Regions from separate parts of the Homo sapiens genome. Here region 1 is linked to region 2. The links come from fine-mapping of genetic effects on gene expression. A gene starts in region 2. The other region holds a variant in brackets. All regions are shown on one strand. Distances are between the middles of the regions. Region 1 overlaps RAB1A (RAB1A, member RAS oncogene family). Region 2 holds the start of CEP68 (centrosomal protein 68).

Region 1 (15,591 bases), 53 kb before region 2:
GGGCTGCCTTCTCTTGCTGTAGAGGGCACACTTGCTGCAGAGCATGTTACTGTTTTATGCATTGCTAGGCTTTGGGAGTTGTGACTTGTATGATCATAGTACTTACAACTATTAGTTGGCAATTTTTAAACTTTAACTTTAGATTATATATGTAAACTCCTGTGTTCCTTTGTCACTGATAATCTGAACAGAAGCCTTGGATAAATAATTTTGAAGTTTTTGTCTGAACCTCTGAAATTTGTATTGTTATCTCATGGTTTTGCTGGGAGGAAGGAGAAATAACAATGGCCACTTACTGTGCTTCTGTATGTGCCAGACAGTATGTGCTAGATGTTTCAGAAACGTGATTTGTAATCCTGACAAGAAGCCTAATTGGGTGGTAGTGGGTGCTAATTGAACCTTATAGATGAGGAAATTGAGGCTCATGGTGGTAAGTGAATAACTTGCACCAAGATCCTATGGCTGGTATGCAGTAGAGCCTCAATTCAAGTACGGGTCTTCCAGGTCCAAACCCATGCAGGCTTTGAGAGGTAAGGAGGTAGAGAACGTTGACACCCCGTTCTTGGTGTGTTTTTCAGCAAATACTTGTATGCATATTAAAGACTGTCTACCCTTTTGTCATCTTGTGTCACTTGCTGCTTCCTTTGGTACTACCCAAATTTCTTTCAGCATTTCAGCTTTGAATTTTTATTTTTATTTTATTTAATTTATTTATTTTTTTGAGATGGAGTCTCACTCTGTTGTCCAGGCTGGAGTGCAGTGGCGTGATATCAGCTCACTGCAACCTCTGCCTCACAGGTTCAAGCAATTCTTCCTGCCTCAGCCTCCTTAGTAGCTGGGACTGGAGGTGCCCACCACCACGCCCAACTAATTTTTGTATTTTTAGTAGAGATAGGGTTTTACCTTGTTGGCCAGGCTGGTTTTGAACTCTTGGCCTCAAGTGATCCACCCACCTCGGCCTCCCAAAATGCTGGGATTACAGGCATGAGCCACTGCACCTGGCCAGCTTTGAATTTTTAGAATACTGTTCTAAACAGAACTATATTGGAACCTGGAAAATTAATCTATTGTCTCTAAATACCAAAGAAAAACATGTAATTTTAGTGGTTGATTATGGGAACAATTTTTTTTAAGATGGTTCATCTGAATGGAAGCATTTTTTTTTAATTGCTTGACTATTTCTTTAAATTTGGAGAAAAGACCATTGCCCTCTCAGATTTCTGGTAATTGGTCACATTGATCATTTATATTGACTGACAGGCTGCTTTGTCCACAGCTGAAGGATTGTTTAATTTTTTTTAAATTATAGGAATAATATGTGCTCACTGTAAAATTCACAGTACAGAAGCATATGAACTAACTAAAAGTTCTTACCTCTTGTCTCCAGCAAGGAGTAAGTGTTTCAACCTGAAGGTTGGTTTTGAATTGTGTTCTGTGGAGCATACTTAAAGTGAGTGAAGAAGAAAAATTTATGTCAATCATGATCATTGCAGCTGAAGTTTTTATTGTTTCACCCCCTAAAGGTTATTAAAATAGTATGTAGTTTAGTAGTCTTGATAATTTTCCCTTAAGATTTATTGGCCAGTATATCAGGATTTTGTTTTAAATTTGATATGTGAGCTTAGTTTTATGCTATTTTCAAATAAGACATTTAGAAGAAGATAAAATAACATTTCTGTCTTAGTCTGTTTTCTGCTGCTATAACAGAATAGCACAGACTGGGTAATTTATAAACAGTAGAAGTTTATTTGGCCTGTGGTTCTGGAGGCTGGGAACTTCAAGAGCATGGTTCTGCCCTTTGTGCTGTGTTATCATATGGTGGAAGGTGGAAAGGCAAGTGAGTATGTCAAGACAGAGAGCAAGAAGGGGCTTGAACTCACTTTTATAACAGAGTGACTCCAGAGATAGCTAACCCACTTTTGAGAGAATGCATTAATCCATTCATGAGGGCAGAGCCCTTGTGACCTAATCACCTCTCATTAGGCTCTGCATCCTTAAACTGGTTTTTTTTTTGTTTTTTTTTTTTGAGACGGAGTCTCGCTCTGTTGCCCAGGCCGGACTGCGGACTGCAGTGGCGCAATCTCGGCTCACTGCAAGCTCCGCCTCCCGGGTTCACGCCATTCTCCTGCCTCAGCCTCCCGAGTAGCTGGGACTACAGGCGCCCGCCACCGCGCCCGGCTAATTTTTTGTATTTTTTTAGTAGAGACGGGGTTTCACCTTGTTAGCCAGGATGGTCTCGATCTCCTGACCTCATGATCCACCCGCCTCGGCCTCCCAAAGTGCTGGGATTACAGGCGTGAGCCACCGCGCCCGGCCCCCCTTAAACTGTTGTATTGGGGATTAAGTATCTAACACAGGAACTTTGGAGGATACATTTAAACCATAAGAATTCCTGTCATGCAAATGAATCCATTCTAGATGAAAGAGAATGAATTTAGTTTCCATTGAACTTTATAAATAGGCCTTTTCTAAGGTACTTACAGCTGATATTATAAAATTTATATTTGTTTTTATAAATTTGTATTTGTATTTCTGTTTGTACAAATACAATTATACACTATAGTTCTCTGCTGTTAGATTTTTTTTCTTCCTTAGCATGTTTCCAAAGGGTGGAATGTTGAAAGTTGGGTTAATGTCAATCAGCTTTCTTTTGTAAAGTGTTCATTGACATGTGAACCTTGTCTGAGAATCTAAATTTTATTTCATGAAAGAAGAAAACAGTATATTCTCATTTAACCCAGAATTTAACTTCATATACTTGTGGCTGTATTGGGAGTATGCCATTGCTGTCTGTTTACAACCTGACCTACTCTACCTACTTAGAAGTAATTTGTGTTATGATAGGTGTGCTGTGCTGACATATGCTGAACATATTTGTAAGGGTGTTAAGTCATTGAATAAAACGCTTTTCTCCTCCTTTCAAATAACATTTTTTATTTCTGGTTATAAAAGTCATACAAGCTTACTGCAGGTTGTTAAAAAGGTATAAAGAAGAAACCGTCAATCCATTATAGTCCTACAGTTTAGACTTCCTGCTCCAGCCTCTCAGAGTGCTGAGATGAGCTAGCCATGCCCAGCCCCTCAAAAGATTTTTTAAAAAACAAAAATGAGGTTATACTTTAAAAAATTCTATATTCCTTTCACATAACAGTGTTATTTTGGAGGTTTTAGAATTTCCAGTAGCATTTTAGATTCAGAAACAAGCTGATTCATCCTCTACTTTGTACTTTAGGCAAGAAAAGAATTTTACCTAAATAGAATTTTGAACTGAAAATCTGTTTTTCTAACTTTTTATTTAAAGAATATTGTTCCATGCTTTCACAGTAGTGACTTTTAATTTTTATATTTTTTATTTTATTTATTTAGAGATGGGGGTCTCACTCTTGTTGCCTAGGCTAGAGTGAGTGCAATGGTTCTATTCCTAGCTCACTGCAACCTTGAACTCCTGGGCTCAAGTTACCCTCCTGCCTCAGCCTTCTAAGTAGCTGGGACTACAGGTGTGCACCACTGCACCAGGCTTTTTTTAAAGGCATAGAAAATGGTAGTGCTTGCATACAAAAATGGCGTAGGTACATACATCAGCGGACATCAAGACTATGTTCAGATCATAAATGTACATATATGTACCGATGCCATTTTTGCACGCAAACAAATAATGGAAATTGAACTCTAAACTGAAATTTGAAACAAGGGTTCTGGGGTGGGCCCTCTTGCTGATTTGTAATTGAATGTATAGTTCAATTTTTCCCCATCTGTTAAGCAAAAGACAATTCTAATGTTAGCAAAAATCCACATATCCTGTCATTGATCATTTTTTCCTTAATTTTCTTTAAGAGATGGGGCTTCTCTCTATGTTGCCCAGGCTGGTCTGGAACTCTTGGGCTCAAATGATCCTCCAGCCTCAGCCTCCCAAAGTGCTGGAATTAATAGGCACAAGCTGCCGTGCCTGGCCCTGTCATCAGTCATTTAACTTCATGCAAACTGAGTAGAATAAAACTCGTCCTTACTGTACCTTATTGCTTTTGTTTTATTGTTGGAACCTCCAATATTGCGAAAGTAGACCAAAAGTTGACTTATAGGAAAAACTGATAGCAAAAATAATTTTTCTCTTGTTGCTGTATTTCATGCCCACCATCCAGTTGTTAAAGCCTACTGTTAATTTCTCTCAGCCTCCTCCTTTCTGTCCAGGCTTATTCTATGCCATTCTTACCTTAACTGTTTTTAGCTTTCTCATAGAGTGAACTTTTTAAATTAAAATAAAATATCTGCTCGTAGTATTATAAAATTCAAGCAGTTCAACAGAATTTTTCACTAATAGAAATACTTGTACCTCAAAAGCAGCTTTATTTTACAAACCCAGCCCAATTTGTGATTAGATTTAACTTGAGAAAACATGAAATGTCTCTCATATTGTTTAAAAATATCATAAGTGGCTGGGTACGGTGGCTTATGCCTATAATCCCAACACTTTGGGAGGCTGAGGCAGGTGGATCACTTGAGGTCAGGAGTTTGAGACCAGCCAGGCCAACATGGTGAAACCCCATCTCTACTAAAATACAAAAATTAGCTGGGCATGGTGGCACACACCTGTAATCCCAGCTACTAGGGAGGCTGAGGCAGGTGAATCGCTTGAACCCGGGGGAGGTGGAGGTTGCAGTGAGCTGAGATAATGCCATTGCACTCCAGCCTAGGCAACAGAGCAAGACTCTGTCTCAAAAAAAAAAAAAAAATCATGAGCTAGCATTTTTGAAGTGATTGTTTGTCATTTTTCGTTTTGTTTTGTTTTGTTTTTTTTGAGATGGAGTCTTGTTCTGTTGCCCAGGCTAAAGTGCAGTGGTGCGATATCAGCTTACTGCAACCTCTACCTCCCAGGTTCAAGCGATTCTCCTGCCTCAGCTTCCTGAGTAGCTGAGACTACAGGTGCGTGCCACCACGCCCGGCTAATTTTGTATTTTTAGTAGAGGCAGGGTTTCACCATGTTGGCCAGGCTGGTCTCAAACTCCTGACCTCAGGTGATCCACCTGCCTGGGCCTCCCAAAGTGCTGGGATTATAGGCTTGAGCCTCGCCTGGCCTCCTCATAATTTTTTAACCTTTATAAAAACCTTTTCTAAAACCCTTTTTATTTTGAACTAAATTTAGATTTACTGAAATTGTGAAATCAATGTGGAGTTCTTGTATACCCTTCTTTCCGCTTTTCCTAATAGTAACATCTTACATACATGGTACATTTGTCCAAATTAAGAAATAAACATTGGTACAGTGTTAACTATAGACTTAATCTGGTTTCTCTAATTTTTTCACTAATGTTCTTTTTCTGTTCTAGGATCTAATTCAGTATACCATATTGTATTTAGTTGTAGGCCATGTTAGCCACCTTCAATCTGTGACAGTTTCTCAGTCTTTCCTTCTTTTTCGTTATCTTGACAAGTTTGAAGAGTGCTGATAGGTATTTTATAGAATGTCCGTCAGTTGTCTGTCAGTTTGTATTTGTCTGATGTATTTTTTTTTTTTTTTTGAGATGGTGTCTCGTTCTGTCGCCTAGGCTGGAGTGCAATGGCATGATCTTGGCTCAATGCAGCCTCCACCTCCGGGGTTCAAGTGACTGTCCTGCCTCAGTCTCCCAAGTAACTGAAACTACAGGCATGTGCCACCACGCCTGGCTAATTTTTTGTATTTTAGTAGAGAAGCAGTTTCACCGTGTTGCCCAGGCTGGTCTCGTGCTCCTGAGCTCAGGCAATCCACCCGCGTTGGCCTCCCAAAGCGCTAGGATTACAGGTGTGAGCCACCATGCCTGGCCAATATTTTGAGGGATATACTTTGGTGAGGTCATGCAGATATCCTGTTTCTCCTTAGTTTTATCCATTAATTTAGCATTTATCCAGTAAATCTTCCTTGCAGCAATTATTTTTTCTTTTTCTTTTTTCCTTAATTTTTTTTTTAAGAGATGGGATCTCACTCTGTTGCCCAAGTTGGAATGCAGTAGTGAGTTCATAGCTCACTGCAGCCTCAAACTCCTGGGCTCAAGTGATCCTTCTGCCTCAGCCTCTCAAGTAGCTGGGACTACAGGCATAGACCACCACACCCAGCTAATTAAAAAAAATATTTTTAGAGATGGGGGTTTTGCTATGTTGCTCAGGCTGGTCTTGAACTTCTGGCCTCATGTGATCCTTCTACCTCAGCCTTACAAGTAGGTGGGAATTACAGGTGTGAGCCACCACACCCAGCATTGCAGCAATTATTAATGTAGTGCTACTGGTCATTTTCTGTTTTTCTCATTTCTTCAGCATGTGTTATTGACTTGTCTCTTCCCTCCCATTTATAATCATTTATACTGCTATGAATTCATGAGTATTTATTTTGTGAGTTATAATCTAATACGTACTTAATTTATTTTGTGCCTCAAATTGTTCTGGCTTGGCCATTTTTTTTTTTTTTTTTGAGACGGTCTCGCTCTGCTGCCCAGGCTGGAGTGCAGTAGCGCCATCTCTTCTCACTGCAACCTCCACCTCCCGGGTTCAAGCGATTCTCCTGCCTCAGCCTCCTGAGTAGCTGGGACTACAGGCGTGTGCCGCCACACCCGTCTAATTTTTTGTATTTTTAGTAGAGACAGGGTTTCACCATGTTAGCCAGGATGGTCTCGATCTCCTGACCTCGTGATCTGCCCGCCTCAGCCTCCAAAAGTGCTGGGATTACAGGCGTGAGCCACCAAGCCCGACCGGCTCCTGTATCCTTTTAACATGAGGTGCTGTCATCATTTTTTCCCCCTAATATTTTGGCCAAAAATGTTAATCAAGGATGGCACAAATTTTCTGTAGCTGTATCTCACAACGAAAGAGGCCTGATTAAAAATGTAAAACTAAAATGTTCTCTGATCTCTTAGCACATGCTTTGTAAAAGGCACAGTGCTAGATCCTTGTATACGTAGATGAGTAAGTCAGCTTACCTTCCACACCCACAGATAGCTATGTCAAACGTAAGGGTGGAGAAACACAGACCCCAAACTTCTCGAGGGTAGAAAATATGAGGTTATAGTAGATTAGAACTACAAAAAGCTAGAGGAAGTTCTGAACTGGAAACAGTGGATAGGATTTACTAGAATAATTTACGAGGGTGACAATTGTAAATCTTCATAGGTTTCTTTTTTTTCCTTTCTCTTTTTTTTTTTTTGAGATGGAGTCTCGCTCTGTTGCCCAGGCTGGAGTGCAATGGCGCAGTCTCTCCTCACTGCAACCTCCGCCTCCTGGGTCCAAGTGATTCTCCTGCCTTAGCCACCCAAGTAGCTGGGATTACAGGCATCTGCCACCATGCTGAGCTAATTTTTGTATTTTTTTTTTTAGTAGAGACGGGGTTTCACCATGTTGGTCAGGCTGGTCTTGAACTCCTGACCTCAGGTAATCCACCCACCTTGGCCTCCCAAAGTGCTGGGATTACAGGTGTGAGCCACCGCGCCCAGCCAAATTTTTATTGGTTTCTAAACTAGCATAATTTAGTTTTTTTCACTTAAGTCAAAATTATATTATTGTAGGATAAAAACTTAGTGATCCAAATTCATGAGGAATGAAGAATAAATACATTTAAAGTCTTACCATTTGCTAAATTAGTCTTGGCTCTTTGTACCAAAATTCTGTCCTTGTGCTCTGTAATTTTATATTTGTATATTTTCTATCAACATTTTTACTGTGTGGTGTTTTGTAAATTATAAAAACGTTTTAAAGCAAACTCAGAACAATGAATTCTCACGAATATTCAGTATATTTACAGTTGAGAAATAAACTACTTCTGTAGTAGGTAATTTAAAATGTCCCAATGCAAGTTAACGTGTCACTGATCACGCTATTCAAGTGTGTGTCTTTGATAAGGGGAGGTGGGGAAGTTTGTGGGTTTGATTTTATTTGCCTTTCTCATGTGACTGTTGTCATGTTAGTAAACAAATGGTTTGCGAGAGAACCAGTAGTCTTTTGCAAAGATTGTCTTATACAGAGCACTCAATTCTTCATATTATTTATAATGGCTTTAATTTAAGCCTTAAATTATTAGAAACTCATAAATAATTTTTTTATTTGTTTTTTTGAGATGGAGTTTCGCCCTTATTGTCCAGGCTGAAGTACAATGATGTGATCTTGACTCACTGCAACCTCCGCCTCTCGGGTTCAAGTGATTCTCCTGCCTTTGCCTCCCAAGTAGCTGGGATTACAGGCATGCGCTACCATGCCTGGCTAATTTTGTATTTTTAGTAAAGACGGGATTGCACCATGTTGGCCAGGCTGGTCTCGAACTCCCAACCTCAGGTGATCCACCTGCTTCGGCCTCCCAGAGTGCTGGGATTACAGGCTCACTGAGCCACTGTGCCCAGCCATAATGCGTTAAAATAAGAGTGTTATATTTGTAAAACTTAAAAAAATGTAGTGGTTGAAAAAGGTAATTTAAAAAGAATTGACTATTAATTTCTTGAAACCATAATGTAACTTGTAGTGCAATTAGGAAACCTTCATGTTTCTTTCTTTCTTTTTTTTTTTTTTTGAGATGGAGTTTTGCTCTTGTTGCCTAGGCTGGAGTGTGTGATGTCAGCGCACTGCAACCTCTGCCTCCTGGGTTCAAGCAATTCTCCTGCCTCAGCCTCCCGAGTAGCTGGGATTACAGGCGCCTGCCACCACACCCAGCTAATTTTTGTATTTTTAGTAGAGGCGGGGTTTCATCGTGTTGGCCTGGCTGGTCTC[G/A]AACTCCTGAACTCAGGTGATCCACTGCACCTGGCCCCCGTTCATGTTTTTTAAAGCTTTATGGTTGCTCTGAAATAGAGTTGTTGATTTTTTTTTTTTTTTTGAGACTCCTCTTTTGCCCGTGCTGGAGTGCAGTGGTGTGATCTGAGCTCACTGCAACCTCCACCTCCTGAGTTCAAGCAATTCTCATGGGTCAGCCTCTCAAGTAGCTGAGATTAAAGCTGCCCACCACCATGCCTAGCTAATTTTAGTATTTTTAGTAGAGATGGGGTTTCACCGTATTGGCCAGGGTGGTCTGGAACTTCTGACCTCAGGCATGAGCCACTACGCCTAGCCTGGGTTGTTGATCTTTAAGGTGATACTTCAGGCAACATCTGAGGCCCAGTACAGTCCTTTACTTCAACTGGCTCCAGTACAGCAAATTCAGGGAATGTTTTTGAGTGTTTACTGGATGCCTGGCGTGGAGTTCAGGGAGATTGGTACATTGAGTCCAGTTGTTGTGTTGAAACTTCTGTTTAAAAACCTCCCTACTAAGTCCCAGCTACTCAGGAGGCTGAGGCCTGAGAATCACTTGAACACCTGGAGGCAGAGGTTGCAGTGAATCGAGATCGAGCCACTGCACTCCAGCCTGGGCGACAGAGTGAGACTGTCTAACAACAAAAACAACACCCCCCAAAAAACCAACCTACTATGGTAGTATCAATGCTGTGATAGTCTTCCTTTCTTCATACAGGTAAATTCTTAACATATACTCATTGTTAATGTTCAGTGTTCAGTATTCTTAAGAGTATTTGGGGCCAGGCACGGTGGCTCATGCCTGTACTCCCAGCACTTTGGGAGGCTGAGGTGAGCAGATTACCTGAGGTTAGGAGCTTGAGAACAGCCTCCAACATGATGAAACTCCCGTCTTTACTAGAAATACAAAAATTAGCTGGGTGTGTTAGCACATGTCTGTAATCCCAGCTACTTCAGAGGCTGAGGCAGGAGAATTGCTTGAACCTGGGAGGTGGAGGCTGCAGTGACCTGAGATTGCTTCACTGCACTCCAGCCTGGGCAACAGAGCGAGACTCTTGTCTCAAAACAAACAAACAAAAAAAGAATATTTGGGGCCAGGCATGGTGGCTCACACCTGTAGTCCCAGCACTTTGGGAGGCCAAGGCGGGTGGATCACTTGAGATCAGGAGTTGGAGACCAGCCCGACCAACATGGCTAAATCCCGTCTCTACTAAAAGTACAAAAATTAGCTTGAGCAACAGAGCAAGACTCTGTCTCAAAAAAAGAAAGAAGAATATTTGGTTTAATTAAGAAGGAACCTTATCAATAGTAGTAAAGTCAGCCAGCTGAACTGCCAAGTACAAATTGTTGGTATTAGGTATCAATCATTTATTAAGGATAATATTCTACAATAGCGATCTTTTTAAAAATTTTAAAATCTCAAACTGGAAAGGATGTCTAGTTCATTCTATGCTTCAGTCCCCTCTTCTGATTTACTTGTTTAGAAGATTTTTGTTTCCTTCTCTGACTTCTATTTTGCTGCTGACTGGCACTTGGGATTTTTAAAAAATTATTTTCCTCATATATAATTAAAGACAATAAGTATAACAATAAGTATAATATGGTAATTTGCTAAAACCCAAACAATGTTTTAAGTAATGCATATCATTATGTAAACCTACGTAATAGTTGAATATTCACAAAGATAATCGCTTATAGAAGTTTTATATCCTCTCTTCTTTGGCAGTGCAATTAAAACAAAAAAAATAAGTTTTATGTCTTGTTTACATGTAAATAATTTTAATCTAAATTGTGACGTGGTTTTCACTTTAGCATATTTTTGAAAGTAAATCAAAAAGGACAAAATACAAAATCATGTATATCTTCTACAAAAACGATATATAAATTCTAAGGTTTTTGTCCTTTTGAAATTGCTTAAAAGAATGCATAGAACTGGTGTCTGAGTTGGGAAGGATCTATGAGGGATTTCCTTGGAGACTGTGGGTGAATAATAATGTTGTCTTAGTTCCATGAAGGAATCTCTGGGGATAGTTTTTGAGTTAGGCCTGGCAATGTTAGAGATACATAAAGAGAGCCTTGTTTTATCACTGGGTGCGGTGGCTCACACCTGTAATTCCAGCACTTTGGGAGGCTGAGGCGGGCAGATCATGAGGTCAGGAGATCGAGACCATCCTGGCCAACACGGTGAAACCCGTGTCTACTAAAAATACAAAAATTAGCTGGGCGTGGTGGCGCATGCCTATAATCCCAGCTACTCGGGAGGCTGAGGCAGGAGAATCACTTGAACCAGGGAGTTGGAGGTTGCAGTGAGCCGAGATCGCGCCACTGCACTCCAGCCTGGGTGACAGAGCAAGACTCCGTCTCAAAAAAAAAAAGCTTGGTTTTCAATGGTTCTGAAAAATGCTTTAATACAAGTGTAGAGTGTTAGTCAAGTTTTGCACTTGGATAAACAGCCTGTGAATTTATCACATTTCTAGTTTATAATATGGGCTTTCAGAAGTTATATGAACATTGTTTTGACGGGAGAATTCAAGCTGGATGCTAGAGAAGGATCGTGAGAACCCCTTCATTGGAGGAGTGCTATGAAATTATTTGATCTTGGAATTTTTTTTTTTTTTTTTTTTTTTTTTTTTGAGACAGAGTTTCGTTCTTATTGCCCAGGCTGGAGCTGGAATGCAGTGGCACGATCTCGGCTCACTGCAACCTCTGCCTCCTGGGTTCAAGCAATTCTTCTGCCTCAGCCTACCAGGTAGCTGGGATTACAGGCATGCGCAACCATGCCCAGCTAATTTTTGTATTTTTAATGGAGACGGGGTTTCACCATGTTGGTCAGGCTGGTCTTGAACTCCTGACCTCAAGTGAACTGCCTGCCTCAGCCTCCCAAAGTGTTGGGATTACAGGTGTGAGCCACTGCGCCTGGCCTGATCTTAGAATTTGAAGGAGAGACTAATATTTCATGGGCAAAAACAATGAAAAGTTACCTTTCTGTATTCTAATACTATAGAGGAGTGGGATTTATTTAGAATGTTTTAAGTATCTTGGGCAGTCCAAGAGTGCGTATCACTTATTTTTCTTTTCCTTCTTTCTTTTTAAGTGGAAGTTCACTGATGTTAGAGATCATAGGTGGCATTGCCTACTTTTTACATAATTTTATCATGTTTAGTGATCTGTCAGAAGGGCTGTGGCTGTTTGCAGTTTTGGCTTAAGCCATGCATGGGCTTTATAGGAGATGTAGTCTTCACAGTGAGTTGTTATTTGTAGCTGTGTTTTTGTTTTTGTATAGCTTATAGCAATGCAGTGTGCTTTTTATTAACATCATTTTCTTTTTCTTTTTGCAGTGATTATTTATTCAAGTTACTTCTGATTGGCGACTCAGGGGTTGGAAAGTCTTGCCTTCTTCTTAGGTTTGCAGTAAGTTGAAATTGAAATGTCTTTACAATTAATGGTACAATTAATGCTATGTATGTTTTCTAGGTAGATAAAATTAAACAGTTTTATTCAGAATAAGTTAATTCTTCCAGAATTTATATATTTAAAGACTCCAAATATACATCCCCAGTGGTATCTTGGACTGTTAAATAGAAAAATATTGTTGCTCTTAAAAGAAATTCAGTGAAGTATGGTTATAAAGTCAGAATGTCTAATACTTTTGGTCAGAGTCAAACAGCAGTTCCAATATAGGCAGCAAGTTAAAGGGGTAGTTGGTGGCCTGTGTTGAAAGCGACTTGATGAAAATAAATCTTTAAATTAAACTTTAGTAGAATAAGAAGAAAAAGCAGAGCCAGGTGACGCAGTGGATCATGCCTGCAGTCTCAGCTACTCAGGGTGCTGAGGGTGGAAGGATCACTTGAGTCTAGGAGTTTTGAGACCAACCTGGACAACATAGCATGACTCTGTCTCTGAAAAAAAAAGTTAATAAAAGAAAAAGTAGGGTCTTGGACAAACTTCGTTGGCCAATGGCATAGTTCTAAATGCTGAAGCTGACAGATAAAGGACTTTTGACTTAACAGAATCCACAGTGTCCTTCATAGTCTTTATCAACTACCTTTAAATTTAGCATGTTTCCTGGCCAGGTGCGGTGGCTCACGCCTGTAATCCCAGCACTTTGGGAGGCCGAGACGGGCGGATCACAAGGTCAAGAGATCGAGACCATCCTGGCTAACACGGTGAAACCCCGTCTCTACTAAAAATACAAAAAATTAGCTGGGTGTGGTGCCACACGCCTGTAGTCCCAGCTACTCGGGAGGCTGAGGCAGGAGAATCGCTTGAACCCAGGAGGCGGAGGTTGCAGTGAGCTGAGATGGTGCCACTGCACTCCAGCCTGGCAACAGAGCAAGACTGTCTCAAAAAAAAAAGAAAAAAAATAAAAAAACAAATTAGCATGTTTCCCTTCTAGAGATCATTGTTTCTCAGAGCATGGACCAAAGACTCCTGGGGGTTACCAAGACCCTCTCAGGTAGCCCATGAGGTCAAAATATCCTAATAATACTAAGATGTTAGTATTTGTAAGGAAATATTTACTTGGTAATAATACTAATATAAAAGATGTTTGCGTTTTTCAGTGATGACATTGGCTCTGGTACAAAAGCATGTGGGTAAAATTGCTGCTGGCTTGGTACACATCAAGGCAGCGCTAAGCTCCAAATTGTACTCATGGTGATGGCATTCTTTACCTCTGTGCCCTCACAGGAACAAAAACAAGCCGTGCCATTTTTATTGAAGATTGTCCTTGACAAAACAGTTAAAATGATTAATTTTTGAAAAATGTTGATCCATGAGTATTCCTTTAAAAATATTTGTGAAGAAATGGGAAGTTCACATAAAACAATGTTTTTTTTTTTTTTTGAGACAGATTCTGGCTGTGTTGCCAAGGCTAGAGTGCAGTGGCGTCTGGCTCCCAGGCTCAAGCTGTTCTCCCACTTCAGCCTCCCAAGTGGCTGGGACCTCCCAAGTGGATGCGCCATCATGCCTGGCTGATTTTTGTATTTTTTTGTAGTGACAAGGTCTCACTGTGTTGCACAGGCTGCTCTCAAACTTCTGAGCTCAAGCGATGCATGTGCCTCAGCCTCCCAAAGTGCTGGAGAAAGCACTTTTTACTGCATACTGGCTAGTGTGTTGGTTATTTTGGAGAAAAGAAAAGCATTTGTAGTTTTTTGAGTTGTAAGCTGAGCTAACTGCTTTATTTTTTTCTGTGGAACACCATTTCTTTTTTTTTTTTTGAGATGGAATATTGCTTTGTTGCCCAGGCTGGAGTGCAGTGGCACAATCTCGGCTCACTGCAACCTCCGCTTCTCGGGTTCAAGCAATTCTTCTGCCGTAGCCTCCCAAGTAGCTGGGATTATAGGCACCTGCCACCAAGCCCAGCTAGTTTTTGTATTTTTAGTAGAGATGGGGTTTCACCATGTTGGCCAGGCTGGTCTCGAACTCCTGACTTCGTGATCCGCTTGTCTCAGCCTCCCAAAGTGCTGGGATTACAGGCGTGAACTACTGCACCTGGACATTTTTTTTTTTTTTTTTAACTTGAAAGAACAGCTAACAGACAGATTAGAACAGAATTGGCTATTTGACAGATTTTCTCAGATGAACTGTGATAGTCATTTCAAGGGAAGTAGCTGCAAGCATTTGTTGGCTGAAATAAAATTTAAGTTTATCATGGAAAATTAGAATTTGAAAAAACTTAGAGTTTACCACTTGACAGTATCCTAAATACATATGACTTTTCTGATGAGTGCCGATATTAATGAAGGTTATTTAAAAAATATTAAATAATGTATAATTCTTTTTATATAACAGTTAAAAATAAAACCATGAGTACTAGAATAAAACATAGGTGGCTCTTTAATCTTGGTTTGTGAAGGTATTTTTTAAAATAAGAAAAAAGCAAGAAATCACTGCTAAATTTGACTATTAAAATTAATTTATCACAGGCACAAAAATGTTAGAAAACTAATGGCAATAGCAAATATATATATATGAGGATTGGTATTCTCAACATATAAAGCACATTTGCACATCAACAAGAAAAGAATATTTCTCCTAATGGAAATAGTGGCAAATACATGAGCAGTCAGTTGAAAAAAGAAGTAATACAAATTGCTGGCTGGGTGTGGTGGGTCACGCCTGTAATCCCAGCATTTAGAGGCTGAGGCTGGCGGATCATCTGAGGTCAGGAGTTCGAGACCAGCCTGACCAACATGGAGAAACCCTGTCTCTACTAAAAATACAAAATTAGCCGGATGTGGTGGCGCATGCCTGTAATCCCAGCTACTTGGGAGGCTGAGGCAGGAGAATTGCTTGAACCCAGGAGGCGGAGGTTGTGGTGAGTCGAGATCGCACCATTGCACTCCAGCCTGGGCAACAAGAGCGAAACTCCATCTCAAAAAAAAAAAAAAAAAAAAAAAAGGAAGTAATACAAATTGCCAATAAATATGGAAAAAAAAAAAGGCTCAACTTTATTTGTAATTAAAGGCCTTTAAGTTAAACTTAGGTGTCATTTAATTTTTATTAAATTGGCAAATATTAAAATTAAGCATAATTCTTAAGCAACTCTCGGTAGGTGGGAAGAATCTAGCTGTAGCCTCAGGCGTTTGTGCCTCAAGGAAAACCCTCTCTGGGATGTCCATTGCTTGAAGTCAAAGGTTTTCCAATAATACCTGGAAACTATTTTTAAAATGCTGATCCCCATACCCTCAAAATATTAATAGAGACAATCGTGAGGACTATAATAAAGAAATGTGCAATAAGCTCTGGGGGCACAGAGGGAAGAATCTATTGGCTGAGGAGTTGAAGAAATTGTTTGGACACTCAGTATTGCCTGAGCTCAAAACTGAAGGATGAATAAATGCCACATGACCTTGG
Region 2 (15,591 bases):
GCCATCTGTAACACTGCATGAAGGTCTGGTCTTCATTTCCATAGATCCGAGATTTTACACATCATTCCTCCTAACCCTCTGGGGTAGGGGTGGGGGCGATAGATTCAGGTTGCACTTCTAATAAGAGGCAGCTTATCCTTCTCAGACTGGTGAATAGCGCTTGTTGTCTTGGACCCACACAGTCTCCCAGGTCATCAGCTTTAAACAATTTCCTAATGTGGGGCCTCCCGTTCTCGGATCACACATTTTACAGTGCTCCTGGAGGCTAGCAGCTCCATGATGGGGCACAGGCCCCCGTCGCCTCCCAAATGAAGGAAGTGCCAGGAGGTTGGACTGAATGACAGGAGACATCAGAGCACAGACAGTGAACTCAACCTTACCCTCTGAGAAAGGTCTGTACACAACAGAACTGCCTTGTCCTTTGTCAAACCAAGAGACAAGCCACATAAGCTTCAGGATATTCTAGGGACCATCTGGACTTTGCTATTAAAATTCTGTTAGTTTCCAGAACCTGAAGAGGCTGTATGATCCACCAGATATAATTAGGAGTGATGTAGGCTTGGCTTACTCTTGCCCTACAGTAAAAATACGCCCACAAATCATGCATGTGGTAACACAAACTCTAAGCCTGGACATCTGACCCTTCTTCGTATATGCTGCATCACCCTAGGACACTCCTGTCACAGCTGCCGGGCTTCCTCCCACTCACTTCTGTCCAAGATGGAGAGAGGAGGACTGGGAACTGTGGGAGGGGTGAGGCTCTGCTCTTGCTCTTGACTAAACCCCTCAAACAGATGAATGATCAACTAGAGAGCAATCCTCCTTTCAACAAAAAAGGACCTCCCCTAGGACTATTTTTTTTTTTGAGATAGAGTCTCGCTCTGTCGCCCAGGCTGGAGTGCAGTGGCACGATCTTGGCTCACTACAACCTCTGCCTCCCGGGTTCAAGGGATTCTTGTGCCTCAGCCTCCCAAATGGCTGGGATTACAGGCGTGCACCACCATGCGTGGTTCATTTTTTGTATTTTTAGTAGGGACAGGGTTTCGATATGTTGCCAAGGCTGGTCTCGAACTCCTGAGCTTAGGCAATCCACCCGCCTAGGCCTCCCAGAGTGCTGGGTTTACAGATATAAGCCATCACGCCCCGCCTCTTTTTTTTTTTTTTTTTTTGAGATGGAGTCTCACTCTGTCGCCCAGGTTGGAGTACAGCAGCGAGATCTTGGCTCATTGCAACCTCTGCCTCCCGGGTTCAAGCAATTCTCCTGGCTTAGCCTCCAAAGCAGCTGGGACTCCAGGTGCGTGCCACCATCCCCGCTAATTTTTCTATTTTTAGTAGATACGGGGTTTAACCATGTTGGCCAGGCTGCTCTCGAACTCCCGGCCTCAAGTGACCTGCCTGCCTCGGCCTCCCAAAGTGTTGGGCTTACAGGCGGGAGTCACCGCACCTGGCCAGGACTCTTTAAGTCGTGAGCTCCCTTTGAAACAATCTCATTTATACCAACTTTGCCCAGGGAGCTCTGTTCTGGCAAGGGCTCGTCTCTTACCTGAGCGCACAGTCACCTGTGCCAGCCACAGAGGCCAGGTGTTGCTAGACTGAGCAAGCCCTATGAGTTCAGGGCCAAAACCTCCAAACCTGTTTTCACAGGAGGCCACAGGAATAAGTGATAATTGCCATGAACACACAGTGGCAGAACCTGCCCAGAGAACCAAAGAGGCTTTCCATGCTGCTCTTTCTCCAATAACATGAAACTGTCCACAAGGAAACAGAAGGCAGGACCCAGCAGAGCTTGCTGGAAGAACTCTGGGGGAACTAGATTTATGGAATAAAGGAGCTTAAAGGCAGAGGCCAAGCAGGCATGGGAGGTCACATGAAAGGAGGTAAAGACACGTAGGGGAAGCCAACAAAGGGGCCAGTCACAAAAGGTGACTGAGGCCTGCTTCAGGGTGGCGTGGGTGCCAGGAAAACTGTGGCTGGAGGCCTGAGACTGGGAGGCCAGCAGCAAAGAGCAACTGCTGCTCCACCTGCTCCTGCCCTGCTGGGAAGTCCCCCTGGAGCCCCACAGTCCCCCACACCAGCCCTGTCTTTCACTGTGGGATAGGTCACTCTGAGCACTTTGTCCCCCTTCTCTGCAGGTAAAATCAAAGTAAAGTGAAAATGAAGAAAAGACTCAAAGCTACGGAGGGTAGACTGTGTCTGCTGTGGCTTGGCCATGGGCCGAGGCCATCCCCAGGATCCTTGGGCACCGGGAGCCCCTTCTTTTCTCCCCAGGGCTGCTTCTGGAAGTTTTGCTTAGAGTCAAAAGAACAGAAGGAATCTCCCAGGGCCCTAGGAGGAGCCAGTGGGTCCCTGTAGATCAATGCGGTAGGGAGGGCTGTGGGCTAGGCTGCTTGGCTGTCTGTTCCCTCGCCTTCTCACTCACTTATCTGTTGGCTGACTGACCAGGGCTACCAGACAGCCTCCCAGCAAGGCCAATGTTCTCATTTACAAGGCAAGGTCTTTAGGTAGCCCTTTTTTTTCTTTTTTTTAATTTGAGATGGAGTCTTGCTGTGTTGCCCAGGCTGGAGTGCAGTGGTGCTATCTCACTGCAACCTCCACCTCCCAGGTTCAAGCAATTCTCCTGCCTCAGTCTCCTGAGTAGTTGGGATTACAGGCACCCACCACCACGCCTGGCTAATTTTAGTATTTTTAGTAGAGACAGGGTTTCACCATGTTGGCCAGGCTGGTCTCGAACTCCTGACCTTATGTGATCCTCCTGCCTCGGCCTCCCAAAGTGCTGGGATTACAGGCGTGAGCCACTGCGCCCAACCTAGATAGCCTTTAAAGAGATGTAAGTCACATCTACAAGGAGCTTGACTGAGTCCCAGCTACTCCTCCCCTCAACCCCAAGCTCTCTGGCCTCCTCAGCAGTCAGCAGAGTGTCCATGTGTAACAAAGCTCAATGTACAAGGATGCTGAGGGCTGAATATGTCAATCAACAGCACCTTTTTTCTCACTAAAGAGCAAAGCAGAAAAACACCTTCCTTATAACAAAAGTCACTGTCAGAAGAGGCTGTACCTGGACCACATGGGTGCATTTCCACAGACCACTGCTTTTACTATACTGACAGTTTTTATTTTTATTCATTTATTTTTTTTTAAGAGACGAGGCCTCGCTATGTTGCCCGGACTGGTCTCAAACTCCTGAACTCAAGCAATCCTCCCTCCTTGGCCTCCCAAAATGCTGGGATTACAGGTATGGGCCACTGTGCCCGGCCCTGACACTTTTTTGTGAGGTCATCAGGCTGCACGTATGAAGACTGAGAAGAATCTTACCGCTCTCAAGAGATACTATTAAGATTGCCACTCACTGTACCATAGCATTCTCTTTGGAGAAGCCATGGGAGAATTCTCTGGCCTCAATAACAGAAACAGCTGTCTCCATTCAGCAGACATTTTCACTTTATAAGTACTGGCAAAACTGATAAAAAAAAATTTCCCTCTTTGCTTTGGCTGCTACAAAGCTCAGGGCCAAATACACAATCTCACCTGAGTAAAAGGCATAGGACAGAGAGGTACTTGCCTTTTTGTGCTAATTTCTTCCTTGACTTTCTCCTATTTTTTTTTCACTCCATGTGCCTCAATTGCTGTTATTAAAAATCTTATTACATCAAAGTATGTTGGAACAATTCCTCAAATAGTTTTTTTTTAACAAGATAGAGAAATTGTTAAAACAAAAAATAGAAAAAAGCTCCTAAACCCAAGATTTTATTCCAATACCATAAGAAAATAAAACCCATTTACCCAATACTTCTAAAAAGCAAATGTAGATACTAGGGTTAGCACTTCACTATCAAAGTGTGATCCAGCACCAGCAGCATCTGCATCACCTCAGAGCTCGTTGGGAATGCAGATTCTCAGGTCCTGCCCCAGAACCTTGGAATGAGAACCTGCATTTTAGCAATATCTCCAGATGACTTGGTAAGAAAAATGTTTCAGAAGCACTGGGTTGGTAAGTAAGGCTGTTTCAGCACCCTGAGAAGGAACAACTAAAATAGCTTTACAACCATTCCTTGGGTGCCTATATGCCAGCCACACACAAGAAGAAAATTTATGGCCCTTGTCTTCAAGGCCTTTGCAACAGGACATTAGAAAAGGCTTACACCTTGTGGCAGGTTTTTAATGGCTAATTATAGAATACCACAGCTGAAAGGGAGTCCCCAGAAATAATAGTATTCCCTAGAAAGAATTTGAGATTCATGATGGCTATGTTAAAAACAGAATCACAGACCTGAATTTCTCCTGTGCCAGTTACAAGTGAGGAGGGGAAAGGTATTTGTTTTGGAAACTGGAAATAATTTAAGAGAAACCAATATGCCAAGGGAGCTTACAGCTACAAGGAAATGTGCAACTTAACCTGTTTCCTGTAACCAGAAAGTGGTGCAGGAAAACCTGGAAGTGACGCAGTGTCCCCCAGGAGTTGTATCTGACACTTCTAGCTGGCAGACAGGTCTAAAGCCAACAGGAACATTTCTTGGGCTTTTCATGATGTTGGTGAACAACATTAAAGATAGGAGACAGTTTCTTCATGAGAACAGATTTAAGTTATAAGGAGAGTCCACCTCCATAAGCTCTGCTTCTTTCTGGATGGATCAACCAGGTAAAGATTTTTTGTCAGCCACATGAGGCCCCCATCTATTTAGCTCCTCTGATTTTACATGACCATTTCAGATAACAGACCCCGTTAAGAATGTATCAAGTACTACTGTAACTCTTGGCCAAATTGCTATTTGGCACCAAATCAATCTTTAGTTGGTGGTGAGACTCCAGACACATAAACAGATAATCTTCTACGGAATACTTTCACTGTGGAAAGAGAATCAGGAAAGGCTAAAGGGATGTTTAAAAATCAGACATCAGGCTGGGCATGGTGGCTCACGCCTGTAATCCCAGCACTTTGGGAGGCTGAAGTGGGTGGATCACCTGAGGTCAGGAGTTCAAGACCAGGCTGGACAACATGGCGAAACCCTGTCTCTACCAAAAATACAAAAATTAGCGGAACACGGTGGTGGGTGCCTGTAATCCTAGCTACTCGGAAGGCTGAGGTAGGAGAATTGCTTGAACCCGGGAGGAAGAGGTTGCAGTGAGCTGAGACTGTGCCATTGCACTCCAGCCTGGCCAAGAAGAGTGAAACTCCCTCTCAAAAAAAAAAAAAAAAAAAAAAAAAAGGAAAAAAATCAGCCATCGGATAAGGTGTCAGGCACCGTGGCTCATGCCAGTAATCGCTTGAGCCCAGGAGTTCAAGACAAGCCTGGGCAATATAGAGAGACGTCATCTCTACAACAAAATAGAAAATTAGCTGGGCCTGGTGATGTGCACCTGTGATCCCAGCTACTTGGGAGGCTGAGGTGAGAGGGACTCGACCCCAGGAGGTTGAGGCCACAGTGAGTTGAGATCATGCCACTGTACTCCAGCCTGGGTGATGGAGTGAGACCCTGTCTCAAAAAAAGGGATCGGATAAGGACCAAAAAACAGAGAGATCCTGAAGGGTCAAGTACTATACAGATATTTCATATTGGTGAGTGTATTCAAGTATCCATTTATTTTTCTCCTAACGACTGCTAACAGCTAACAGCTACTGATCATTTTCTTTGTGCCAGGAACTATATTAGGCACTATACATCAATATCTTATTTAATCCTAATAACTCACCACACAGGTACTACTATTATTCCCATTTTTAAGGATGAGGAAACCAAGGCACGGAGAAGTTAAATAACTTAATGACACGCCTGTAATCCCAGCACTCTGGGAGGCAGAGGCAGGAGGATTGCTTGAGCCCAGGAGTTCAAGACCAGCCTGGACAACATGGCAAGACCCCCATCACCATTAAAAAAAAAATTAATCAGAGTTAGTAACATGGCAGAGCTAAAGCCTGTTTGACTTAGAGAGCCTGAGCTTAGCTGCCTTCCTAACCTGTAAGAATAACTCGCTCAAGAAGTTAAATAAATGTTTCTGTTGTGTCACCTTTAGACTACCACGCTGATTTTGTTTCCTTTTGGCTTCCTTCCATCATTGAGTGCCTTTTATGTTCCAAGCATTGTGCTAGGGGCTGGGGAAACCACAATACAGTGTGATGAGTAAAAACAGAGGCTGCAGAAGGTAGCCCAAAAAAGGGAGGAGTTATCAGTCGCAGGGTGGGGAAGTGCTTTAAAAAGCTTTGCGCAAAAGAGGTTAAACTGAATTCCTTGGGTTTTTTGTTGTTGTTGTTTTCTAAGTGGGCCAGAATTGACTCAACAGAGGGTGGGAAAGGGGAATGGAGGGAACAAAGTAAAAAGTGGTGACTTCTAGATCTTTCAACTAAACCCAAGGCAAACTGACCCAACAACCTTTGTTACACACTTTAACACAACACTCTTCATACCCTAGATCTGAGAACTGTTAGATTATTTACAAACGCTACCTCCCTTCGTGGTCCTGATGAATTCCCAGTGAGGTCCAATCTGCCCTGGCAGGCTTCCGCTCATTTTTGTTACAAACAATACACTAAACCCAACCTACTAATCATCAAGGGCCTGGAACAGGTTTTGGACATTCGTCCCCAGGCTGCTGAGAACTGTTCTAGTGATGACAGTTAGAAAGGGTAGCCCTCCGAGGCAAAAAAAATGAGACATCTTGATTTTTTCTCTCCGCATCTGGGCGCGGCGATAAGAAGACATCACTGGTCTCCATCTTTCCAGGGGGAAAGGCCCGAGCTGCATTAGCCCCGACTGGGGAGCTGGGTAAACAGCCCACGCCCGGGAGAGGCCTGAGGGAAAGTGACCTCCCCCGGGGCCCAGGCCGACCAGCGGCGCAGCTGCTCGGCCGCCAGATGCGCGGACTCGCGCACTCCCTCGCCGCGCCCGGGCATTCCCAAGCCCAGCCGCCCGCCTCGGCCCCGACCCCTCGGCCGCCACAGCACACGCCGTTCCGCTCGCAAGATGGAGGCGAAGGCACGAGGCGCCCCCGCCCCCCAGGGAGCCTTTGTGCCCTTGCCGGCGGGGACGCGAGGCCAGACGGCCCGCACCGCAAGGGCCCCGCAGGCACCGAAGAGACGCGGGGGAGGGGGCCGGGCGCGCGCGCGGATCTAGCCCGGGCCACCGCCCCCAGCGCCGCGGCACCCCCGACACCAGCACCCGCACGCGGGACACTGCCTACCTACCGCACCGCGAACGCTTCGCACGTCCGGAGCGGTCTCAGCAGCCCCATGCGCTGGCCCCGAGCTGGCGGACCCTGACTGCAACTGCGGCCCTCCAACCGCAGCCCAAAACGCGCAGGGCAGGACCGAGCGCCAACCACGCCCTTCGGCCGCGCTGACCACGCCCTTCTTCCCGCCCCTTCTCCCTCCGCGGGAGGGCTTTCGGCAATTTCGCGCAGCGAATCGCAGCTCTAAGTCCGCGGCTCCACCAATACGTGGACGCTCCTGCAAGATGAGCCCGCCCCCTACTTCGTCCTGGCCTATGGGAAGCCGGGACTTCTTCAGCGGCTGTCCTCCCTCGCTTTTGGAGCTCCGACCTCAGCTTCGCCTGCGAGCTGGGTTGTGTAAAGGCTGGTCATTTTGGGGCGCTTAGGGGTGGGTGCCGGGGGGCGCGCTTTCCCTCGTGAAGGTCGCTCCAGGAGTCATGCGTACATTCGTTCATTTTGCTCTGGACGCACTGATGTTCCCGGCTCGCCGCCGTGCCGCAGTCACGAGGCTCTCCGAACGCCTTTCACTGTGTTTCTGTTTACATTCGCGTCTGCAAGACCCGGCGGCGCGACCGAGGCCCGAACAGGTGCTGCGAGGCGGGGCGGGGAGCCAGTGCTGAGGGGAGCTCCCCAGGCCGGGTGGTTGAAGACAGCTTCTGGGGGGAGGTGGAGCTCTGGCTCGTGGAGAATGGGAAGGGTGTGGAAAATGAACTGGTAGCTACTTAGCCACTCTGAGCAGCCTGCTCTGATGGGAAATCGGTGATGGAGTCGGAGGGAAGTGGGAGGCAGCTTGTGGGAGGCCAGGGTGCTCACTCTCTCCCCTGCCAGCATGGGACCTAGTAACTTTCATACATCTCTATCTATCTATCTATTTTGCAAAGATGGGGTCTTGCTGTGTTGCCCAGGCTGGGCTTGAACTCCTGGACTCAGACGATCCTCCCGCCTCGGCCTCCCAAAGTGCTGGAATTACAGGTGTGAGCCACTGCATCCCATCCCCTAGGAGCTTAATGACACTGCCCTTTAGCTTTTACTGCTTAGCAGAATCCGGAGGCATAGAGGAACTACCACCAGGGTGGCGTGGGGAAGAGGCCCTCCCTTCTGATGATTTTCTCTCAGCAGCACTTTCAGCAATCTGGCTTCAACTGAATATCTCCCCAGTTCATAAAACAGGCGTCTGTAAATGTCAACCCCAGCTGGGTGCAGGGTACAAATTTTTTCCTACAGAGCTCTTGAGTCCCAGGTAGTTTAGGAGACAAGGACTTGTTTGGTTTTCCCAGACCTGTCAGGACAGCTCAGAGGTTTTGTCTAACCCAGGGGCCACAAACTTTGGACAACAGCAGCAGCTAGCCCACAGATGGTTTTATTTGGGCATCGCATAGCTTTTCTTTGTTTGTTTGCTTTTGTTTTTTAATAAGAATTTGAATCCCACCACCACCACTGGTCCATTAAGTAACAGCCAGCCTTCACACATTTGCTGCCTACCTGAAGGCATTTGTGTTTGTGACCCTTGATCTTTTCTATACACAGAAGACCTCCAGTGGAGTCACCTAATCCCACAGCCAAGTCACCCCTGCTGGACAGAGAACTGTACAAAGTCCAAACAGGCGTACATATCCTGTATGGTTTCCTCATCTATAAAGAGAGGGGATAGGATGAAGGAGTCCCAAGGTTCCTTTTGGTTCTGATGTTCTGTAATTTTGTGTTGTGAGCAGCTTTTGTTTTTGCCTGACGGGAAAACTTTCCTTTGGGAATTGTCTGCAGTCCGCTGGGTCAGATGGTTCTTTAGCACCGCACTTCTCCGGTCTCCCAAGGCAGGATGGGTGTGGAGAAGGGGAGGTGTGGAACCCAGGCCTGACCAGCTGTAGTCTCCCTCCTCTTGTTTTCAGATTTCCCCAGGGATGCGCACATGACCAAACCTGAGATGATCTGAGCCCTTGTCGGGGATTTTAGAGAATGAGGCTGGGAGAAAGAGGCTCTTTCTTTTGGTGTTTCTGAGCGCGGGAAAAGTAGGCCTAGAGCTGTCTGTAGTTATACTCCTTGCAGCAGCAATGCTGGAGAACCAGGCCTGGAAATGTTAGGAACCAGCTAAGCCATCCTGCTTTGGTACTCTGATTAGGGTGCGTACCAGCTCCTTTGGTGGTGACATGAATTATTTTTCAACTCTTCTCACTTAAGATTCAAGTTTTGGGAAGGACCATTTACTTGGCCTAGTCTAGGTTATGTGCCTGTGTTCTGATTGCCAATAGGCAAAGAGAGTTCTGGTTTCTACTGTGGCTTCTAGTCTGGGAGGCCTAGCCTCATACCAAGACTCAGTGTGTGGGGGCCTCCCCTCAAATAAGAAGAATGAGACGCTGGGTTGCCAAAAGTTGCTTCACTATAGTCCGTCTCTTAGGCTGCCCAACATTCACAGAAGTGCTTTCAAAGGTAAATGAAAATGCTGCCATCCAACAAAATGCGAGCATCTCTCCTATAACAAAATTTACTTATCCCTTCCCCAAAGCAGGGCATCTCAAAATCTCCTCATTTACTGTATTTGGCCCAAGTCTAACTTCTGTAGGTGATGTTCCATTCTTCCTTTCAGTTTCATCATCATCCCATCCCATCGTTGTAATGTGTAGACTAAATTGTAAAGTTAAGCATCACTGATAGACTTTAGATACAATTGTGAAAAGAAAGGAAATGAAAGAAAAGGACAATAGCTAAAAACTCCATTTATATATAATACAGCAAGAAGGGAAATACTGTTAGAGGTTACGATCTTCATTTTTGTAACTGGTAATGAAGCTTTATTGTCATTTACAATTTTCCTTCTCCGCTAACCATTCCAGGTCCCTCTTTCCTTCACGCAACCCCTCAGCTGGCCAGGATTCTTTGCCTGGTTGGGTTAAGCAAGCTTTTGTTCTTGAGGAGGTTGCCTGTAGGTAGGTTGTCTGTAGTTTGTCTGTAGGTGGTACAGTACATTGCCATCAACTTGTGCCCTGGCATGAGAGTGATGAGGTGCCTCAGGAGATCTCCTGTGTTCTATTACTGCTCCTCTTGCCTCCGTGGTGTAACAGCAACCCCACTTCCTCCTGAGAGTCAAAATCAGTCACCAAACAACATGTGACCTGTGGCATGAGGAGACCACATCAATTTCAGTTCTCAGTTAATAGGAACCATTGTTGTAGGTTCTGGTGAAAGCATTGTACTAAAATATCTAAACCAGCTGGTTTGAGGAAAAGCAAAGTATAAATTTTGAGAAGAATCATTAGGTATGATTTGAGAAATACCACACCCATTGTTACCAGCAATGATATTCTGCTGTGGAAGAAACTATTGGTCATTGGTTCAGAGTTTTGTCTCCCAGTGGGCACTTGAACTAATTTTTTTTTTTTAATTAAAAATTTTGGTCAGCTGGTGGCTTCTTGCTTGGTGGCCAGGAGCCAGATTTCATTCTGGGCAGGAGCAAGGTGCAGCCAGTGGGAATGCAGGAGAGGCCAGGTGCGTGTTTTGGGACTTTCGGAGCAGCAGCCTGGGAACCAGCAGAGAAGATTCTGTCTTCCAGAGGTTGCCACTGTCTGCCAACTCACTTGTCTCCATCCTCAGTCATCTTTTAAAAGTACATAGCGACACTCTAGCTGTCTGGTTCTTCATGGGGAATGTAATTGAAGTCTGACATCATTCCTATTGCCCTGAAGTCTGAAACTTAGTGTCATTCTCACTGAAAATTGCCTTGGAGTTTGACAAACTCTTTCCCCAGTGATATTGACAGGTTGTTTTGTTTTTGTTTTTGTTTTGTTTTTGAGACAGTGTCTCACTCTGTCACCCAGCTGGGGCTGGAGTGCAGTAGCACGATCTTGGCCCACTGCAACCTCCACCTCCCAGGTTCAAGGGATTCTCCTGCTTCAGCCTCCCAAGTACCTGGGATTAGAGTCACCCACCACCACGCCTGGGTAATTTTTGTATTTTTAGAAGAGATGGTTTCATCATGTTGGTAAGGCTGTTCTTGAACTCCTGACCTCAGTTGATCCACCTGCCTTGGTCTCCCAAATTGCTGGGATTACAGGTGTGAGCCACCACACCTGGTCAGATCCGAGGTATTTTGAACTAAACAGAACAGCAACCAACATCCATATAAAGTAACTACAAGAAAAAAATTAAAAACCATTTTAACTAATGAAAATTCTTTCCACCAACCACAATTCCATCCAACAGCCAAAAAGCAGAGGAAAACTAACAGTATTCTTCATATGAATTAAATATCATTTAGTAAGCAGCTGTAGCTATAAAGAATACCAAAAATCAGACATTAAAAAACTCAAAATAGAAATGGACACAAAGCAGAAAACTATAAAATGAGAACTGATGAAATTCAGGAAAGAAGTAGAAGAAAAAGCCAAAATAATCTTGAGATATGGAAACTAAATTACATTGTGTCCACGGGAAAATAGGTTAGCCTTAAAAGTCAAGAAGGAACATTGAAAATAAATTTAAAACAGCCAAGAGAACCCAAAACAAATTTGGAAAAGAAGGAAAAATATTAGAAAAAAAGTGAGAGATATAGAAGATAGACAGAAGTTAACATATGCATCATTGAAGTCTCCAAAGAAAAGAAACATAACAATGAAAGAAAGCTATAACTGAAGATAGTTTTCTGGATATAAAATAAAACATGAATTTTTGGGACCAAAGGTACCTTGAGAAACACTGAGTCAGTATCATTAGCCTCAGTGAAATGCAAATCAAAACCACAATTATAGCCACTAGGATGGCTATAATAAAAAAGGTAACGTGTTGATGAAGATGTGGAGAAACTGGAACTCTCATACATGGCTGGTAAGAATGTCAAATGGAGGCTGGGCACAGTGGCTCACACCTGTAATTCCAACTCTTTGGGAGGCTAACATGGTAGGATCGCTAGGGCCCAGCAGGTCAAGGTTGCAGTGAGCTGTGATCGTGCCACTGCACTCCAGCTTGAGCAACAGGGTGAGACCTTGTCTCAAAAGAAAGGAAAAAGAAAAAGTATGTCAAATAATACAGCCCCTTTGGAAAGCAGTCTGGAAGTTTCTCAAAAGATTAAGCATAAAGTTACCATATGACCCAGCAGTTCCACTCCTATATATGTATGCAAGGTAAATTAAAACGTATGTTCATACAAAAACTTGTACATGATTGGTTATTGCAGCATTATTCACAAGAGCCAAAAAGTGGAAACAACCCAAATACCCATCAACTGATGAATGGGTAAGTAAAATACAGTATATCCATAATATGGAATGTTAAAATGGCAGTAAAATCAATGCTACAGAATGTAGACGGACATTTTTATACAATGTGGGTGAACCATGAAAACATGCCAAGTGAAAGAAGCCAGTCACAGAAGACCACATAGATGATTCCATTCGTATGACACATCCAGAATAGGCAAATCTATGGAGACGGTGGATTAGCAGTTACCTAGGGCTGCAAGAGTTGAGGGGAATAGGAAGTGACCACTAATGGGTAACAGTTTCTTTTAGGGGTAATGAACTAAATTTGATTGTTCTAAAATTGACTGTGATGATGCTTGCACAACTCTGAATAAACTAAAACCATAGAACTGTGTACTGTAAATGGGTGAACTGTATGGTAGGGAAATTAGATCTCAATAAAGCTGTTTTTTTTAAAAAAAAGATATAGAAGTCAACTTGAAGGACTTTTTTTTTTTTTTCTTTTTTTTTTTTTGAAACAGAGTCTTGCTCTTTCTCCCAGGCTGGAGTGCAGTGGCATGATCTCAGCTGACTGCAACCTCTGCCTCCCAGGTTCAAGTGATTCTCCTGCCTCAGCCTGCTGAGTTATAGGTACTTGCCACCACACCCGGCTAATTTTTTTTTTTTTTTTCCAGTAGAGACAGGGTTTCACCATGTTGGCCAGGCTGGTCTCAAACTCTTGACCTCTGGTGATCCATCTGCCTCAGCCTCCCAAAATGCTGGGATTATAGGCATGAGCTACCACACCTGGCCTTGAAGGACTTTTTCATTGGCCAAATTTGGGACAATCTGCAAATAAAAAATAATGTTAATTACGATTTAATTACATTTTAAGTATAATTGTATTTAAGTATATTTGAGATAATTATATACTTAAATGTATAATTAACTTCAACATAATTAGGTATATAGTTAAGTATATATGCTTAATATATGATTATATTTAAAATATGTTTATATATTAAATATATTAACAAGTATATTAATATATAGTACTATATAATAAATATGTTTAACATAATATATAAATATATAATAAATGTATTAAATGTTAATGTAAAATAAATATTTGTAATCTATAATTATAATTGATTATAATATAATAATTTTTTGAAAATCATGGTCCATAGTCAATCTCAAACAAAACATAAGAAAACAAAGAGAGAAAAAGAAAAGCTCATCTTTACAGAGTGATAACTGTAAGAGGAATGTTAGATTAGACAATTACCCTTTTGGAAACTCAAATGTAATAATTAACCAATTAACCAAGATAAGGATTACTAATGAATGCTAAAACTATTGGGAAAAAAGTTTCTGGGAACAAGGTATTCACACAGACTCCCAAGTATTGCCCCACTGATTATTTACTAATTACAAAAGGGAAATTATGCATTTATAATGGAAAGATCAAACAATTACCACCATAACCAAGTGATCAAACATCACCAATAATGGGACTACCAGACATGTGCCTCCTAAGTAGAATTCTTTCCAAAAATATTTAACCTAACTTCCTGCTTACAGGAAATACAGTAGATACTGGTATAAGATGAACACCATTAGGAAGTAATCATCTCCAGAATATGGGATATTATGTAGCTGCACCAGACCAGTTTGGTTCAACTTTTATGTAACAAAAGTTATGAGTTGTTTTTCAGTTGCTAATGGAGCTTCAGGTCATGTAACCTGAGCAGGCCCAGGTGAACCAAGTGTGTAGCCACAGGGGGGAACCTAAGTGCTCAGAGGAGCAGGGACTGAATTAGGAAGTTGACACTGCATGGCTGGATCTACGATGCAATCAGATTGAGCTCTGGCATCACTCATTAGCAGGATCCAGTGAGATCATGCCTCTTGGCATTACCTCATTGCAAGATCCAGTCAGATCATGCCTCATTACCCTATGCTTATAAAACCTGACACAGCCTGGAGCTCAGGGAGGCATTGCTTTGGGAGCTATCTATACCCAGTGTTCTTTTTACTAGTTGTAAGTAATAAAATCCTCTTGTTAAATCCTCCTTGGTTGTGGCCATTGGTTGTTACTTACCAAGTGACCTAGCCCACCTGTTGTGTGGGCAACAGTTGTACAAAACAATTGGCCTGAACTCTTCAAAAATGTCAACAGTATGGAAAAAAATACCCAGTAATAAATGGTATTGGAAGGAATGGTTCTAGATTAAAAGAGACTAAATAGATAATAACCAAAAACAATACAGGAAACTTGAGTGGATAGTGGAGCAGGAAAAAAAAGAGCTATAAAAGGTATTTGGGGGATAACTGGAGAGAGTTGAATTTGGGCTGATATTAGATGATATTATAGCACAATTGTTAAATTTGAGGGGCGGTGATGGCATTGTGGTTATGTGGAAAAATATTTTTATTCTTAGGAGATACATGCTGCAGTAATTAGAGGTGAAATGTTATAATATCTTTGTATTAGTCTGTTTTCACACTGCTGATAAAGACATACCTGAGACTGGGTAATTTACAAAAGAAAGAAGTTTAATGGACTTACAGTTCCACGTGGCTGGGGAGGCCTCACAATCATGGTGGAAGGTGAAAGGCACGTCTCACATGGCAGCAGACAAGAGGAGAGAACTTGTGCAGGGAAACTCCCCTCTTTAAAACCGTCAGATCTTGTGAGACGTATTCACTACCACAAGAACAGCATGGGAAAAACCTGCCCCCATGATTCAATTACCTCCCACAGGTTCTTCCCACAACTTGTGGGAATTCAAGATGAGATTTCGGTGGGGACACAGCCAAACCATATCAATCTTTAACTTAATTTTGGTTGTTTAACAAACAAAACTGTATATCTGTATTTGTAGCTATCTATCTAAGGGGGAGCACGTGCAAATGTGATAAAATGTTAGTAATTGATGAATCTGTAGTTGGCAGACTCTAAGTTGGCACTCAGTGAATTCTGACCTTCCCTCCTGGAATTCACACCTTGTGTAATCCTTTTCCCTTGAGTAAGGGCTGGGTTTAGAGACTGGCTTCTAGCAAACAGCATGTGGGAGGTTCCTTCCATAATTGAATTCTCTCTCCTTCAATTGCTCAGATGGAGATGGGCTGCCATGTTGTGAGCTGCCCCATGGGGAAGAGGCTCACATGTGAGGAACTGAGGGAGGCCTCCAGAAAACAGCCAGTGAAGAACTGAGAC

Evidence for each region. PIP is the estimated chance that this variant, and not a neighbour inherited with it, causes the effect.
Region 1: its variant is the best candidate, but not a certain one, in a credible set for the expression of CEP68 in blood mononuclear cells (TOPMed, PIP 0.77).

The regions. Positions count from the first base shown.
Region 1 is chr2:65,101,287-65,116,877 of GRCh38, reverse strand. It overlaps RAB1A (RAB1A, member RAS oncogene family), which reads left to right. Exons shown (of 6, transcript NM_004161.5): 2 at 12,072-12,144. Among named protein-coding and RNA genes, the nearest start is that of RAB1A, 21 kb to the left of the region's middle. The variant G/A (reference allele first, on the strand shown) is at 8,719.
Region 2 is chr2:65,048,111-65,063,701 of GRCh38, reverse strand. It overlaps CEP68 (centrosomal protein 68), which reads right to left and starts at 7,286. Exons shown (of 7, transcript NM_015147.3): 1 at 7,174-7,286. It overlaps LINC02576 (long intergenic non-protein coding RNA 2576), which reads right to left. Exons shown (of 3, transcript NR_183398.1): 3 at 9,960-11,322. RefSeq lists enhancers at 2,020-2,521, 7,454-7,693 and silencers at 6,054-6,133, 6,144-6,193, 6,824-7,163, 7,244-7,353, 13,061-13,233.